Regions from separate parts of the Homo sapiens genome. Here region 2 is linked to region 1. The links come from fine-mapping of genetic effects on plasma protein levels. A gene starts in region 1. The other region holds a variant in brackets. All regions are shown on one strand. Distances are between the middles of the regions.

The links. A credible set is the group of variants that fine-mapping cannot tell apart. PIP is the chance, under the fine-mapping model, that this variant and not a neighbour inherited with it causes the effect. Protein levels are from the aptamer-based SomaScan assay of Sun 2018.
Region 2: its variant is the best candidate, but not a certain one, in a credible set for the plasma level of the CRISPLD2 protein (Sun 2018, PIP 0.55).

Annotation. Positions count from the first base shown.
Region 1 is chr16:84,816,840-84,824,839 of GRCh38, forward strand. It overlaps CRISPLD2 (cysteine rich secretory protein LCCL domain containing 2), which reads left to right and starts at 3,146. Exons shown (of 15, transcript NM_031476.4): 1 at 3,146-3,294. RefSeq lists a silencer at 2,919-3,108.
Region 2 is chr16:84,845,065-84,854,633 of GRCh38, forward strand. CRISPLD2 (cysteine rich secretory protein LCCL domain containing 2) reads left to right here. Exons shown (of 15, transcript NM_031476.4): 3 at 722-840; 4 at 4,321-4,453; 5 at 5,504-5,619. Among named protein-coding and RNA genes, the nearest start is that of CRISPLD2, 30 kb to the left of the region's middle. RefSeq lists enhancers at 1-536, 5,947-6,448 and a silencer at 1,319-1,555. The variant C/G (reference allele first, on the strand shown) is at 6,953.

The DNA of each region.
Region 1 (8,000 bases):
GGGTATCAGTGACCAGTCCCTTCCCAGGGGGCACTTGGGACGGGACTGGCCATCTTGCCCCTTTCCTTGGTACAAGTTGGTGCTCTCCCATCTGGGACTTCCCAGGGGTCCCCCTTGCCCATGAAACACCATTTTTTTTTTTTCAAATTCAAATGTTATTTTTTGGAAATTAGATTCTGAGATTGCAACATGATGGAAAAGTTGATCACCACTAAACTCCTCTCTCTCTCTTTGCTTTACTGGCTCTAATAATAACGGTATTAACTAACACTTTCTGTGTGTCAGGCCACGTATTACTTCCCATCTATTAACCATTTGTGCCCACAGAGAGAGACAGAGATGCCATTATTACCACATTCATTTCACAGATGGGGCATGGAACGCAGCGACATTAAGTGACTTGCTCAAGGCCAACAACTTGGAAGTGGAGGAGCTGGGATTTGAACTGAGCCTGATGCCGGATGATGACACAAACCAGCAAGCTAAGGATTCAGTCTGCCCCGTGGGTGAGACTGCCCGGACAGCAATCGTGGCTTGCAGAGCAGTGGTCTCTGGTTGCAGCTCTGCCAATGGGGTCCTTGGAGCGTCTGGGCTGGGCTGGGTCTCCCCAAAGCCAACTTGGGCCGGTGAGGAGCCTACAGGGTTGCCATACAAAGGATCTGTAAGGAGATGAGGGTTGGATTAGCAAAGTGGCAAACATTTCACTATTGACAACTGCCAACCCCCGTTCCACCTGCTGGGCCTATGTAGAGGCTGATTCCGTGTAGCTTTCCTTCCTCTTTGCTGGAGTGGGGATGGAGTAGGGACCCAGTTCATTCCATTCCCCTGCACCCAAGGTTTCATGGTCACAGGCAATGGCAGCCACGTGGGTGAGAGTGTGAATTCAAATCCTGGCTCTTCTATTCAGAGGCTGTGTGGCCTCAGGGAAGTGACTTACACTCTCTGTGCTCAGTTCCATCATTGAAAAAATGAGGCTAATAACAGGACCAGCCTGGAGGGTTGTTGGGGGTGGCAGGATTTGGCAGTATAATGCTTTGGGGTCAGGTACTCAGAGGCATCTGTTTTGTTGTTGTTTGTTTGTTTGGTTGGTTGGTTTTGTTTTGAAATAGGGTCTTGCTCTGTCACCCAGGCTGGGATGCAGTGGCTCGATTTCAGCTCACTGCAACCTCCACCTCCCAGGCTCAGGCAATCCTCCCACCTCAGCCTCCTGAGTGGCTGGAACCACAGGCATATGCCACCATGCTGGCTACTTTTTGTAGCAACTGGATTTCATCATGTTGCAGGCTGGTCCTGAACTCAAGCCACCTGCCTGGGCCTCCCAAAGTGCTGGGATTACAGGCCTGAGCCATCGTGCCAGGCCTCCAAAGGCATCTGCTAACACAGATCTCTTCTCCCCTTGGATTTGTCTTTTGTCAATCCAAGGACTGTTGTTCTGGAACAGTCTTATTCACTACTGAGCCCTCCAGTGCTTGAAACAGAGCCCAGCACATAGTAGGTGCTTAATTATTGGATGACTGCATGCCAGTTGAGTGCCTCTGAAGAATGATGCTTCAAAGACTGAGAAAAGTAAAACAAAAAGAGGAAAAAAAGATAACAGAAAACATCTGCATTATTATTATCTTTTTGAGATGGAGTTTTGTTCTTGTCTCCTAGGCTAGAGTGCAATGGCGCCATCTCAGCTCACTGCAACCTCTGCCTCTCAGGTTCGAGCGATTCTCCTGCCTCAGCCTCCCAAGTAGCTGGGACTACAGGCATGCACCACCATGCCCGGCTAATTTTTGTATTTTTAGTAGAGACAGTGTCACCATGTTGGCCGGGATGGTTTCGAACTCCTGATCTCAGGTGATCCGCCCGCCTCAAACTCCCACAGTGCTGGGATTACAGGTGTGAGCCACCGCGCCCGGCCAGTCTGCATTATTCTGTATCTGCATTTGAGCCGCACCAAAATCTTAGGCAAGCCTTCCCTGTTTGAGTCCACGTCACGCAGGCAGCCTTCCATAGTCCTTGTTCCACCCATTCCCCATCCTTGTTTCTCCCACGTGCCCTAGCTCGTGGGGGCCCCAGACTCTGAGATCCCGGAGGTGTCTTGTTTGTGCCTGCTGTATAGCACAGGGCCCGGCACAGAGCGACTCGATGGGTATTTGGGGAATGAGTTAATGCTGGAGGAGCTAATTCCGGTGTCTTGGTGCGGAGATGAGCAGTGCGGACAGGCCCCCTCCTGCCCTTGGGCCCCAGCACCTTACCGCGCAGTGCCTGCATACCCGTCCACATTTTGTGACTGAGGCGGGAGCACGGGGCAGTCCCTTAGCTCTTAAGGAACGTGGATTTACCTGTTTCAAAGGTGATTTCGTCTGGCTCTAAATTGATTTCCGTATGTACCTGCACAGGTTAAAAATGCTAAATGCCTCCGGGCAAAAGAGATATGAACATGCTGCACTGCTCCTAGCTACGGGACTTGGGGCACGCTCTTCTCCAAGCCTCAGCTACTGGATCTGTGAAATGAGGTGATTTCCACCTCCCTGGATTCCTGGGAACGCGTCCTAGGGTCGTTGAAGGTAAAGTGCGGAGCCTGGATCCCCGCGCTAGCGGCCCCATCCGGAAACAAGTCTCCCTTTCTTCGTCTGCAAATTGGGAAGAGGGGGCCTAAGTTTTCTGAGCACGTGTAGAGGGTGGGAGTCACCTCAGTAACTGTGTACTCTGCACCGCGCCACAGTTCACAGCGCCCAGCCCTTGCGGATTTCATTTGCTAAAATCCTGGGAGGTCGCCTCCTTATTCCTATTTTCCAGTTGAGCTGCAGAGAGCTGGGGTTTGGTAAATTTGCAAGCCCCTTGTGGGAAGCGCTTGGCACCGCGCCAGGCGCATAGTAAGCGCTCAATGAAAACTATGCTTGTGTGGCCAGTGGCGAGGGAGCTGAGCGTCTCCTTGTCCCTAGCCGGCCCTGGAGGCCAGCGGCCCCGCCTTCCTCGCCCACCCGGCGCCCGCGCCTCAGCTGCCCCCCGCCTCCTTCAGCCCGCTGAGCCTGCGGGGCGGGGCCGGGGGCGGGGCCGGTGATGCTCGGTCCTACCAGCGCCGCCAGCGATCTGGGGGCGTGGCCTCCGGGCTCCGGGGAGCCTACAAGAGGCGGTACGCTGAGCCCCGGCACCCACTCGCATCCCAGGGCGTCTCCGGCTGCTCCTATTGAGCTGTCTGCTCGCTGTGCCCGCTGTGCCTGCTGTGCCCGCGCTGTCGCCGCTGCTACCGCGTCTGCTGGACGCGGGAGACGCCAGCGAGCTGGTGATTGGAGCCCTGCGGAGGTAAGTGTGATTTCCATGCTTCTCCCTTTTGCAAACTGTTACCCCCCCGAGAAGCTGGAATAACTAGGACAGATGCCACCTCGCAGGGCTGACTGTGTGCTGGCACCACACCGAGTGCTCTGCTTGCATAGCGGAACACAGCTTTGCGACATGCCCTTTTGCAGATGGAGAAACTGAGGCTCAGCGAGGACAACTCATTTGTCCAGGACCTCGCAGCCAGGACTCCAAGGACCCAGGATTCAACGCCGATCTGAGCGCAGAATCCTGCTCCTTAGAGGCTGTTTACTCTCTTGCCTTCCTCGTGCAGTTCACTAGCATTTGTTGCATTCCTGTGTTCGTAGTGGGTGTCAATAACTGGAAAGCTGATGGCATGGATATGGCAGGCATTAGAATGTGTCCTACTCATGTCTGGAGGACCAGGGTGATCTAGTGGCATGTGCATTCAGCTGCAGTTTAGAGGGCCACGCCCCTCTGTGATTTCATTTGCAAGGTAGCCTTCTTCCCACATTTCAGATGAAGATGCTGAGGGTCAGAGAGGTGAAGTAAGTTGTCCGGGCAGAGCCAGGGCTGGAACCCAGCTCTGTCTGTCTCCAGAGCTTCAAATGGATGTGTAGAGACTTGGGGCCATGTCAGGGTTCTGCAGTCTGGGGGAACACGTTTCTGGGTTTCTTTAGCCAGAGCGGGCACCTGCATAACTCCTGCGTGGGGAGAGTTACCCTGGAAGCGGAGGGCTCACTCTGGAGTGTGGGGGAGATCGGTCGTCCCACGTGGACAGAGCCAGGGCTAGTCCCTCATGTGCTGCAGACCCAGAGCCTCCCTTGCTAAGGCTGGGCTGGTGGACAAGCCAGGGAGGACTTCGCTGATGCCTGCTCATCGCAGTCCAACTTGAATTGGGCGTCTCTCAGCCAAAATGTGAGTTGCTGCCCTGGCTGAGAGAAGCATCCCGTGCAAATGCCTAGCTTGCCTTGCAACCGAGAGTGGGGTTGTGAGTTTCCCCTTTGGGCCTTTGGACCTCTTGCCCTGGTAGAATGGGGTGAGCCTGCTTTCCCCATCCAGGGTCTGATGTCTGACAGTGAGGAGAGCCTGCAGAACAGGACCGGGGCGTGGTCCTTTCCAGTAGACTGAGGCCATGAGTTGTGACTGTCGGCTGTCCCAGGGCTCCTTGGGTTGTATGCACCTGATTTTCTGCTTCTGCCCCTGATCTGGCTGTTCCCACTCAGGAGAAGGGGTGGGTGTGTGACTGTGTTGCCTGTGCGGCAGGCACGCGGTCTGTGCCACGCAGTTTACCTGTATTGTCATCGCTGCAACACCCCGGGGAGTAGGCCTCTTGATGCCCACTTCACAGCTGAGGAAACTGAGGCTCAGCAAGGTGAAGTGCTTGCCTAAGATCCCCCAGCTGGTATGGAATGCTGTCACCCCCAGGTGGGTCCTATCTGCACTCTTGACCCTGCTTTCTTTAAGACACTTCCCTGCCCACTGCCAACTCCACCCATGAACCTGACCTTCACACAGGTGATGTTTTGTCTTACAGGGGCTCCAGTTAAAACCACTGGACAATGTACCCAGGGAGGAGAAACCAAGAGGGTGATTTTGATTTTTTCAGAGTTTCTTAAGATGTGAGAGTAGGAATAGTAATAATGCCATTTGTAATAATACAAGCAGCTGACATTTACATGATGCTTAGTACAGACCAGACATGCCCAGGGTTTCCACGGATGAGCTCACTGCCTGCTCTATTAGCTGGGCACTTTTTACAAGGAGTTAGTTGAGGCTCAGAATTATTAAGGTGTGTGCCCAACATGACACAGCCAGGGCGGGGTAGAGCTGCCGTCCAGGCTGGGCCCTGCCCCAGATTCTGGGGGAAGGTGCCCATCTAATGACCAGCCACATGACTGTCCCAGCAGAGCTTGCTGCTAGTTGAGGCTTTCTGTGCCATGTGGGAGTTTTTTTAACGTTGGCAGGGATCTGGGTCCCTGGTCCCTGTTGGGGTGAGGCTGGGAGGGGATCAACTGACCCTGGGCTTGGGCTCAACATTGCTGACAGGTACTGAGAGCCCCGTCCCAGGACCCAAATCAGTGCTGGTTCTGAGTCCTGCCTCTGTCCTGGAGAGGAGAGTTGGTTTGACTGGGAAGGCCTGAGCTAGGGAAGAAGACTGCGAGGTCTCTTAAAACCTCTGCACTTCATCCCTCAAAAGACCACAAATTAAGTATGTGGCCCTTTGTAAGTTGCATTTGAAAGTTTTTGGAGGCAGGACCCTCTGACGTCTTTGGAGGTCAGAAAGTTTTTGGAGGCAGGGCACTGACCTCTTTGGCCTGTGGGAACTGGAACTTTTCTTTCCTCTGTCACCAGCGTCATTTGCTGTGTGTGGGAGGTGTCTGCATGTCTGCCTGCGCCAGACTCAGGAGGCTTTTTCTTTCTTTTTCTTTTTTCTTCTTTTGCAAACGCACTGGTTTTTGATCAGTCCCAGATGTGCAAACCCAGGATCACTCAAACGGGCTGACGGCTTGTCAGGAAAGGAAAATTCAATCTGGGCATATTTCACTTCGTCTTCAGTTCATTGAGTGGAACAGATGCTCAGACCTTCCAGGGACAGGGACCTAAAGCACGTTGTAAAGTCTTAAATAGAGCACGCTGAGTTCTGGGACAGGCAAGGGACAGGTAGATCTGGGTGGTGGTTAATAGGATGGGCCATGTTCTGTTTTTCTTTTTCCTGAAAAGATGTATTGTGGTAAAAATACACATAAACATAAAATTTACCATTTAACCCATTTTGAAGTGTACAATTCAGTGGCGTTTAGTACATTGGAAGTATTGTGCAGCCACCACCACTAATTCCAGAGCGTTTCATCATCTCGTAAGGAAACCCCAGGCCCATTAGGCATCATTCGCCATTCTCCTCCCTTCAGCCGCTCATCTCCTTTCTGTCTCTACGAACTTGCTTATTCTGGACATTTCATGTAAATGGAACCACACAATGTGTGGCCTTTTGTGTCTGGCTCCTCTCACTCAGCATCATGTTTTCAAGGTTCATCCATGTTGTAATGTGTATGAGACCTTCGTTCCTTTTTTATGGCTGAGTAATATTCCATTGCATTAATAGACCACGTTTTGTTTATTCATTCTTCCACTGAAGGAAATCTGGGCTGTTTCCACCTTTGGCTTTTACAGAGGCTTCTGCTGTGAACATTTGTGTACAAGGTTTTTTGAGGGCGGATGTTTTCATATCTCTTGAGTGTTTACCTGGGAGGGAATTGCTGGGTCATATGGTAACTTTATGTTTAACTTATTGAGGAGACTGTGGCCTCTTTTTTGAGTTCCTTCTTGAAGCATCAACTCAGGTCATGTCATTCCAGAATGTGTTGCTGGCCTTCTCCATGGGTGCAGGGAAGCCCTGGCATTTGGCATTTGTGGGCAGTGTTGGCGTGCCACCTGGGTCACAGCAGCAGCAGGCAGGGAATCCTGAGACATCGCCCTGGGGGAGCCCTGCCTTCTACCCCAGGCTGTACAATGACGAGTACTCTTGGACAAAGACCCCTCTTGCAAGGCTGCGAGGACATCATGGTCCAGCCCGAGGGAGATTTATCTTTGATTGTCTTGAGTGCTGCATCAGCTAAGACAAAAACCACAGAGTCAGAGGGAAAAAAAACGTCCTGATGAGGATTGTGCAATTTCCGGACCATCATTTTTTAAAAATTATAAATTATGAAATCCCACATTTTCAATCCCAATTTCTGGAACGTGTTTTATTTTGAGCACAGAATGGCAACATCCCAGGAAAAAAAGTCATGCTCCCATTTTGCTTGTAATCAAGTGAGCTGGAACTGACCCTACCCCAAATATTTTTTGAATAGGGAAAAGACTCAACTGGACCCCTCTAAGGACTGGGAGCTGGCATGGAGCTGGCATCTTCTGAGACTGACTTGAGAAGAGCCTGATAACGCCTAGAGGAAACAGGCAGGGTTTTGCGAGCAGGGGAAGATGATAGTGGGTGGGTGGGGAGCTGGCGAGGGTGCCCCAGGCAGAGGCACCGTGTGTGTGCAAAGGCCTGCAGGTGGAGAAGGGCCTGGGACTCTTGGAGAATGGCAGGAAGTTTGGTGTGCCTGTAGTCTACGAGCCAGGCTCAGGGCAGCAAAGGTCTGTCCTGCAGGTGTTGTGATGAGCTGTACCACTTAGTGGGCACCATCAAGATGAACAGAGAGTAACACGGTGGCACTGAGAACTTGAGAACAGCTCACTCTAGAATGAACTGTGTCCTCCAAAGTGTGCAGAGCCAATACCTAGGGGTCCCCAAGGTGACTGAGCACGGGCACAGATCCAGCAGCAAATCCCCCCAGTCCAAGAGCTGTTCTTTCCATTCTCTGTTCTTTCCATTCTCTGTTCTTCCGGTCCTTCTGCTTATGGCAAGGTGAAAGTCACAGGTGGAATTGTCCCTATCACCTCTCCCACACCCTGATCTCCTTTTACAACAAAGAGCAAGCATCCTCTACAACAAAGCCTTTGGTTGGTGTCAGTGCCTGGCTGGGAGGAAGTAACTGTTGTTTTTACTGTGTTTAATTTCACTCCTGCCGTCTGTTCACGGCACCAGTGATCAGGTTCTCTGCCAGTGGGAGTGATAGAAAGTTACCTTTTTAAAGTAAATTTCTTGGAACGCAAAAAACAAGCCAAGTTAAATAAAAATACAAAATATGGGGCCAGGCGCGGTGGCT
Region 2 (9,569 bases), 29 kb after region 1:
TACCTGCTGTGGTCCACACATAACTGCGTACATGGAGACAGCTCAGGGTCCAAGGTCCTGAAGACCTGGGTTCAGATCCTGGTTCTGTGACTGGCTGTGGGACCCAGGGAAAATGGCATTGCTTCTTCAAGCCTTGGTTTGCTTGCCTGTGAAATGGAGATAAGGGCCCGCTTCGGAGCCCCCTGTTAGAATGCAATGAAAAGGTTGGGGTAAAGCCCGAGGCCTGGTGTGCCTGGAACATGCGTAGTAAGGAGAGGAAGCCTGGTGTGCCTGGATCATGCGTAGTAAGGAGAGGAAGCCTGGTGTGCCTGGAACATGCATAAGGAGAGGAGACTGGGGTCATCGGGACAGGCTTCCAGGCCAAGACCGTCCCTAGAGATGGCTGCTGACCTTCCCTTGTCTTCCACACAGCGTGCCGTGTTACCCTCAGAGGTCACTCAGCATGGCCACTCCTGTTTCACAGACACTGAGGCCCAGAGAGAAGGCACCTGCCCAGGACCTCTGGCAAGTTAGAGGCCCAGCAGGAGGCCTGAGGATAGGCTTGGAGCCGGCACGTCTGGCCTGCCACGCCCCCCTGGCTGATTTAGGAACCCAGCAATACAGCAGCAGAGCATTGGCTGTAGGCTCCACAGGAGCCCAGGCTGGGGCGTTGCTGTATTTATGGTTCTTATGCCCCTCCCTCACCCTCACCTCCTGGTGCCCGTTTCTCCTTCTCCTGCAGACCTGGGATGACGAACTGGAGAAGTCTGCTGCAGCGTGGGCCAGTCAGTGCATCTGGGAGCACGGGCCCACCAGTCTGCTGGTGTCCATCGGGCAGAACCTGGGCGCTCACTGGGGCAGGTAAGAGCCACAAGTTCCTCTCCGGCTGCCGCAGGACCCCACTGCCGTGTGCCGGGCTCAGCACTTGTGCCCCTTATCAAGTTTAGCCTGCAAAGAGAGTGAGAGAGACCACCCGTCCCATCGATATTCTGGGAAACTGAGGCTTGGCATCCAGGAACACTCCTGAGTGACTGACAAAATGTATTCAAGCTTGGTTGGCTGACCCCAGACACTGATGATTGATTAAAGTTTGTAGTTTGGGTTTTCCTTCTTCCTTTCCTTCTTCCTTTCCTTCTTCCTTTCCTTCCTTCCTTCCTCCCTCCCTTCCTCCCTCCTTCCCTTCCCTCCCTTCCCCTCCCCTCCCCTCCCCTTCCCTTCCTTCTTTTCTTGACAGGGTCTTATTCTGTCATCCAGGATGGAGTGCAGTGGCGCAATCTCGGCTCACTGCAACCTCTGTCTCCTGGGTTCAAGTGATTCTCGAGCCTCAGCCTCCCAAGTAGCTGGGACTATAGGCATGTGCCACCACGCCTGGCTAATTTTTGTATTTTTTGGTAGAGACAGGGTTTCACCATATTGGCCAGGGTGGTCTCGAACTCCTGGCCTCAAGTGATCCACCCACGTTGGCCTCCTCAAGTGCGGGGATTACAGGCATGAGCCACCGCGCCTGGCCTGTAGTTTGGGGTTTCCATTCCATCTCCTGTGCAGGGTTCTTGAGTCCCCGTTCCTGTGGGGTGAACTGCTCTGTTCATGGTGGGTCATTTCTGTCTGGTTCTGCTCACTGTTTAAGGCTGAGCCAGGTTCCACCCTGTTGGGAAGATGCCCATTGCCTTCCCCGCGTCATCCAGCCGTCGGGAAGCTCACTAACTTCTCCAGACCCCCGAGGCTTCCCTGTCTGGCAGTGTTCTGTCCCCTCTCCTTCCCTGTCTGGGAGCGATTTGTCCCCTCTCCCATAGGAGGCATTGACGGTTGTCTGTTAAATGCAGCCGACGGGCCTTCCCCAGAGTAAGCTGGACCATGTATCCGTGCTCCCAAAGAACCCAGAAGTCCCCTCCTGGGGGCTGACGGCTGGTTTCATTGGAGAAAGTGGAAAAATGTCTTTTGACCACGCCCAGGATAACAACTAAGACCACATAAGACTTAACGACCAACCTGTGACCGTGCCATGCCCAAGGCCAGAATTCACGTCCTCAGACCCATCCAGGACCTGGATTGACATCCATTTTGCCCTAATTATTGAAAAGTTGGAATGGGCTTTAGACAGCCTCTTAAAATGTAGGTGAGCGTTTGCTTTCACTTCCCACAGAGGGATTTCCTAGCTTGGGTTTCACTGGGCCACGGGCAGCCGCACCTTCCTCTGCATCCGTGGGTTTTCAGGACAAACCTGGGCAGGTGTCATGGTGGATCGACCGCGGTGACTTCACAGAGGCAAATCCACACCATGGTTTTTTCTTTGGTGAAGTTAGCTTTTTATAAAAACTATCTTACAGGCTGGGCAAGGTGGCTCATGCCTGTAATCCCAGCACTTTGGGAGGCCAAGGTGGGCAGAATACAAGGTCAGGAGTTCAAGACTATCCTGGCCAACATAGTGAAACCCCGTCTCTACTAAAAATACAAAAAATTAGCCAGGCGTGGTGGCAGGCGCCTGTCATCCCAGCTACTTGGGAGGCTGAGGCAGGAGAATCGCTTGAACCCTGGAGGCGGAGGCTGCAGTGAGCCAGGATTGCACCATTGTACTCCAGCCTGGGTGACAGTGCAAGAATTCGTCTCAAAAAAAAAAAAAAATCTTACAATAACATGAAAGTGAAGTGTCTAAAGCAGGGAGATCTGGAATTCCACTAGCCTGGTTCGGCTCTTTTCATTTTTCTGAGCTCCTTTGCAGCACCTGGCTGGGCGCCGACGTAGTTTTACAGCATTGAGACTGTAGCCTGGATCACTTTGAAATCTTTTTCTTTTTCCTTTTCATACAATATCAGGAAATTTTCAGTGATACAGTTGTCATGAATGTCGCCCTGCAAATGCCCTAATGATCCCTCTGTGGACAGACCAAAGTTGACCCGTTGGCTCTTGCAGATTCATTTTTGTTTTTTGTTTTTGTCTTTGTCTCACTTGAATGATTTCATTAGGATTACTCCTGAGAAGTAGGATTGCTGGGCCAAAGGGCACACAGACTTCCCCCTTTCTTAAGGAATTTTGCTAACTTGCTTTGCAAAAGAGCCCCTGACTCTGCATGGCCCCCCGGGGCAGCCGCGGGTTCCTTTCCCCACAGCCATGCCAGTGCCAGCCTTGAGTCTGCGTGACCTTGAGCCGCAGGGAAGCGGATGAGTGGCCAGCAGCCCTCTGCTCCTGCCTCCTCACTGTGTGCACGCCTTTCTGCAAATGCCGCTGCCCGCTGCCGTGCGCTCCGCTTCCAGACAGTAATTGTTACAAGACCTCTAACTGCCTCGACGACCACATGGCCCTTAAAAATGGTCATTTCCCCCGTGAGCATTTTCTCTTCATCGAAACCACTTTGTTTATACTTGCTGGTGACAGTGTGACTGTGGACTTGCCTCCAGTTTGGTTTTCTCCCTAGTTATTAAAAAAAAAAAAAATGGTGCCAACCTTGGCAGCCAAGGCTGAAGCAAGGGGGTGGTGGGCATGAAGCGATGACCCCACGGAGGATGTCCAGGGACAGGTGCAGCTGGTGGCTGCAGATTACAGGCATGCACCACCTCGCCCGGCTAATTTTTGTATTTTTAGTAGAGACGGGGTTTCGCCATGTCGGCCAGGCTGGTCTCCAACTCCTGACCTCAGGTGATCCTACCGCCTCAGCCTCCCAAAGTGCTGGGATGACAGGCATGAGCCACCATGTTCGGCCTTAAGTGCACTCACGTCTTCATCAGGTTTTGTCTTAGACAACAATATCTGTGAAATACGGGCTTCATGGGCTGGATAGTTTTTCTCCAACGTACCTGAAAATAAACACCTAATTGACATAAGAAAGGACTCATTACTTGGGAGGCTGAGGCAGGAGAATGGCGTGAACCCGGGAGGCGGAGCTTGCAGTGAGCCGAGATCCCGCCACTGCACTCCAGCCTGGGCGACAGAGCGAGACTCCGTCTCAAAAAAAAAAAAAAAAAAGAAAGGACTCATTAAGAGCCAGGTGAAGAGATTCCTGCACGTGCAGGTGGTGTATGAGCCACCTGAGGAGCCTACTAGAGACCCCAGGTGAGCTCCTCAAGGATAATGGTATTAAGCACCTGTACCAGGTGCTGCTGGAATTGAGGGTTATTCCCCCACCTCGGCCTCCCTCCCTCCTCGCTGCCCGTGGCTGCTCCTGGAATTGGGGGCTATTCCGCCTCCTCGGCCTCCCTCCCTCCCGGCTGCCCGTGGCTGCTCCTGGAATTGGCCGCTATTCACCCTCCTCGGCCTCCCTCCCTCCTACCTGCCCGTGGCTGCTGCTGTCTCCACTGGTGGGTGAGGGGAGGGGCTGGGACTGAGTGAGCGGTTTCTGCCCTGCAGGTATCGCTCTCCGGGGTTCCATGTGCAGTCCTGGTATGACGAGGTGAAGGACTACACCTACCCCTACCCGAGCGAGTGCAACCCCTGGTGTCCAGAGAGGTGCTCGGGGCCCATGTGCACGCACTACACACAGGTAACTCGGGGACTTGCCACGACCTCAGCCCTGCCCCCCAATCCCAGTCATTCACCCCCTGCCCCTGGGGGATTGTCAAATCTGTAAAGCCTCTGCGCTGTTGTTGCCTTCATTTTTAAAAATTCAGTTCTATACAGAGTACAGCTGGGAGAAGAAGCTGTTTGTTACCAGCAAGGTCAGAAACTGAGTGAGCACTACAAACTCTTTTTTTTCTTTGAGGCAGTGTCTCCCTGCTACCTGGGCTGGAGTGCAGTGGCATGATCTTAGTTAGCTTAGTGCAGCCCCAAACTCCTGGGCTCAAGCAATCCTCCCACCTCAGCCTCCTGAGTACCTGGGACTACAGTTGTGCACTACGAGGCCTGGCTAATTTTTGTATTTTTTTTTTTTTTTTTAGAGATGGGTCTGGCTATGTTGTCCAGGCTAGTCGCAAACTCCTGGGCTCATGCAATCCTCCCCGCTCAGCTTCCCAAAGTGTTGGGATTACAGTTGTGAGCTACTGCACTCAACCGAGAAAACTTCTATGGCAATTTGACATTGTGGGGCATTTTCATTGTGTGGGAGTCTGTTTGTTTGCTTGCTTTTTTTTTTTTTGAAACGGAGTCTCCCTCTGTCGCCCAGGCTGGAGTGCAGTGGCACGATCTTGGCTCACCGCAACCTCTGCCTCCTGGGTTCAAGCGATTCGCCTGCCTCAGCCTCCTGAGTAGCTGGGACTATAGGTGCCTGCCACCACGCCCGGCTAATTTTTGTTTTTTTAGTAGAGATGGGGTTTCACCATGTTGGTCAGGCTGGTCTCAAACTCCTGACCTCATGATCCGCCCACCTCAGCCTCCCAAAATGCTGAGATGACAGGCGTGAGCCACCGCACCGGCCCACTTGCTTTGCTTTTTAAGAAAATGTATGTATCTTCAATGGGTTAGGGACTAATATCTGCTTCCCCAACCCTTCACCTCGTACCTCTTTAGTGCCAGCACCTTATACATCCAGGCCAAATGATATCACCCTTTTGTGCCTTATCCCTCGAGCTGTGACACACAAATGTCATCTTTTCAGATAGTTTGGGCCACCACCAACAAGATCGGTTGTGCTGTGAACACCTGCCGGAAGATGACTGTCTGGGGAGAAGTTTGGGAGAACGCGGTCTACTTTGTCTGCAATTATTCTCCAAAGTAAGACAAGTTGATGCCGTTGTATGGGGTGGGGGTTGGGATGTGTTTGCTTGCCAGGGAGCACCCAGTGAAAACTGGCTTGAGCAGCGAAGTCTTTAATATCTCACATAACAAAGAATCTAGAGTTTAGTGCATCTGGGTTAGCGTAATAGCTAAGCAGTGTCAACAAGGACTCGGGTTCTTTCCGTCTTCCTGCCGTACCATTCTCTCCTCATGGTCCCAAGATGGCTGCACAGCACCAACATCACATCTCCCCAAGCACAAGGAAGGATGGTCAAAGGGCTCTCTCCTTAGGTCTTTTGCACACTGGCATACTTTCTCCTTATGTTCTTTGCCAGAATTAGACCAATCATAGATGAGGGGGAAAAAGATTGCCCCAACTGGCTTTGCAAGACGTCCTCTGGGACCAACTGAACAAAGTCAGAAGTGGGAATAGCTGCTGGCTGGGCAACCAGCATGGTCTGCCCTGGCAGTATGATTATTTTTCTCTGAAAACATGCAGTAGACAGCACCCTAGAAAACACATGTTCACACAAAGCCTAGCTTCTCTGTTTCCCTCCAAAGAGGGTCCACATGCGGCCTCCTGATCATGGTGCCTCCTCCGCCTATAGCATGCTCAGCTCATCAGTGTGGTGTCCAGCCCTTGACTCATTTGCTCATGGGACAAATATGTGCTGATTCTTGGAGAGTCACTCCCCCAGTTCATGGCCTGAGGTTTGCATGCTGGCCGCTGGCCACCGCCGTTCTTGCCCCGTGCCCTGTGTAGAGTGGGCCCCGGGGCATGTTTGCTCAGTGACTGAATGAAATGGGAATGACCTCATTTATTTGTTTTGGGTCAGGAGTAGTTATGAAAAGGTGGGATGAAGGGGGAATCGCTGAGGTTGGGAGGAAAAATAGAAGCCCTCTCAAAACCATCTGGTGTGCCTGCGGTGGCGTGGCGCGGCTCAGCAGCCCACATGGATGAGCGCAGCGGGTGTGTCATTGCCTGGGAGGGACGCAGGCACCATGCAAGAGCAGCAGACTGGTCCAAGGTGGTGGAATTCCTGGCCCAGTGGCAGGTGGTGAATGAGGAATCATTTGACTTGACTCTATAAAAAATAGACACTAGAAGGTCCTATCAGAAATGAAATTATTTCCTTCTGTAGCTGCCCCCTGCTTCCTTAAAAGAAGGAATAACCTCCATATGGTAAAATATACTCATCTGAAGTATACAGTGCGACACAGTCTCACATGCATTAGTCTGTTGGGGCTGCAACAACAGAGGCCACAGCCTGGGCAGCTTACACATCAGACTTTTATGTCTCACCATTCTGGAGGCTAGAAGTCCCCTGGA[C/G]CAAGGGGTGGCAGATCAAGGTGTGGCAGATCAAGGGGTGGCAGCATCGGGCTCCAGTGGGAGCTCTCTTCCTGGCTCACCAACGGCCACTATCTTACATGGTGGTGAGAGATGAGGACATCAATCCTATTGGGTCAGGACTTCACCTGTTGACGTCGTTTAACCTTAATTAGTTTCATCAAGGCCCTGTCTCCAAGTACAGTCACATTGTGGGTGAGGGTTTCAACACTGGGATTTGGGGAGACACATAATGAAAGTCCACGGCAATAGCCCTCTACCCGTGTAACTACCATCCAGATGGAGATGGACAGTGTCTCCCATGCCCCAGAGGCTCTCTCGTGCCCTACAAAGTGCCCACCATTCTAGCATCTTTCCCATCGGTCTGTGGTGTCTGGTGTGGGACCTCATATGAAGGGGGCCACACAGCACACTCCCTGTACCCCCAAATGGTGTTTTGCTCAACATCACATTGGTGAGGTCTCCCCGTGGTGTTGCGTGATCACCGGTTCTTTCCTTTTGTCTGCTGCATATTACTGCGTGCTGTCCATGGCCTCTGTCTTAGAGAGAGGGCTTGAGCCCCTGGGCTATGCAGGACACTGTCCCAGGCACCAGGGTGAGGAGGGTGGCTGGGAGGGTGAGTTTGGGTGTGGGGGGGGTCAGATCCCTTGAGGGGGATTCCCAACCCGACAAGGGGTGGGGTGGGTGTGTACACAGAGGGCCTTGTGTGTGAGGGAAGGTACTTCACGGTGCTATTCAAAAATTAAGGAGACTGGCCAGTGCGGTGGCTCATGCCTGTAATCCCAGCCTCCTTTGGCCGAGGCAGGAGAATCGCTTGAGTCCAGGAGTTCAAGACCAGCCTTGGCAACTGGCAAAACCCCATCTCCACGAAAAATACAAAAAGTTAGCTGGGTGTGGTGGTGCATGCCTGTATTCCCAGTTACTTGTGAGGCTGAGGTGGGAGGATTGCTTGAGCCCAGGAGGTTGAGGCTGCAGTGAGCTGTGGTCACACCACTGCACTCCAGCCTGGGTGACAGAGCAAGACCCTGTCTCAAAAATTAAGGAGATTATTTGTCTGCAGGACCTGGTGCCCAGCCAGCCTTCCACCAATGCCAACCCTGAGTGTTAGGGTTGAGCTGGGAGCGTCAGTGGTGTGGTTTGTCTGAGGAAATATAGAACCGTAGACACAAGGGGAAACTTGGCAGGGGCAGTGGGACGTACCCACGACAGGGCCACGATCATCTGAGAAACCTACTGGGCTTCACCCAGAGACAGGATGGGCTCTGGGACCTCTCGGTCCCTTGGTGATGTTCTTTTTGGGGGAGTCATCCCGAAGACCCCCGGGGATCTGAACAGACGATTTCTGAGCAGGGATGTCTTGTGGCATGGCACGGACGCGATCATTCTGCCTCCGGAATGTGAGAGGGTGGAAGAGGCTGTGTGCACGTCATAACAGTGCCCAGTCAGACAGTGGCCAGCCCTGTCCTCCCCACACTGCACGGCCCACTGTCCCTCCCCTGCCCACAGGCCCCTCGGTGAGGCCAGGGTGCTTCTGGGGCCGCGGGAAGTTCTAGGCCACTCTTGTAAGGACGGATGCCTATCAGACCCAGAGCGTGTTTCCTGCCGTTTGTCTTTGGCCAGCACTGGCAGGGCCCCTCCCCATCTTCCCTGGAAAGCATCAGAGCGTTCCCCGCACAAGCCTGTGGATTTCCCCAACGCTCAGAGCACAGCCTTCCCCGTGAGTCAGGTGCCGGTCCAAGGGCTTCCCCACGGTCACTCCCTCAGTCTCACAGCAGCCCTGCTGCCGTGATCCCATTTTACAGAAAGGGAGACCGAGGCTGGGGCTGGAGGAGGCTGGCCGAGGGCACATGCTGGCAGCCTGGGGCCCAAGCCGGGGAGCCTGCTCTTCACAGCCCAGGAGCCGCAGGAAGGGCCTGGGGATTCCGCTCACCACCTCTACCTGGCCCCTGGAGAAAGCCTATGGTGCGGCCTCCAGTTTTCCTGCCCCTGGGAACTCCGGAGGGAGGCAGAGGGCAACTGTGACCCAAGAGGGACCTTTGATCCAGCCCCTAGAGTAGAGTGTGCCTAAGGCTCTGAGCCGGACAGCCTGTGTTCAAATCCCAGCCCCGCCACTTGCTTGTCCTGTGACCTGGGGCAAGTCACTTAACCTCACTGTGCCACAGTTTCCTCCTCTGCAAAAATATTGAATTCCAGCTCTTCCCTCCTGGGGTGTTGGGGAGATGGGGTGAGGAGTGCAGTGAAGGCACAGACCAGGGATGGTGTGTGGTAAAAACTGGGAAACGCAAGCCGTCTCTGGGACAGGCTGGCTTTACACATTTGAGAAATGGCTTAAAAGGGGGTCCTGGCAGCTTTTCAGCGCTAAGGTGTTGTGATCTAGGGGCCCTAACAGTGTTCAGAGCTGTGTTGGTGGAAGGGGGGCCACGGGGCTGACAGCCAGCCAGGGCAAAGGTACTGTGTGGAAGGGCATCTTGTAGCTCCCTTCTGCAGAATCGCTGGGATTCTGGAGCTCTCTAGACTCTCTGTGCACGGGAGAGGCCTGGGATAGCCATCTTTCCCGCTTCCCACAGCACACAACCTTCCCCCCTGACCTGTCAGTGGC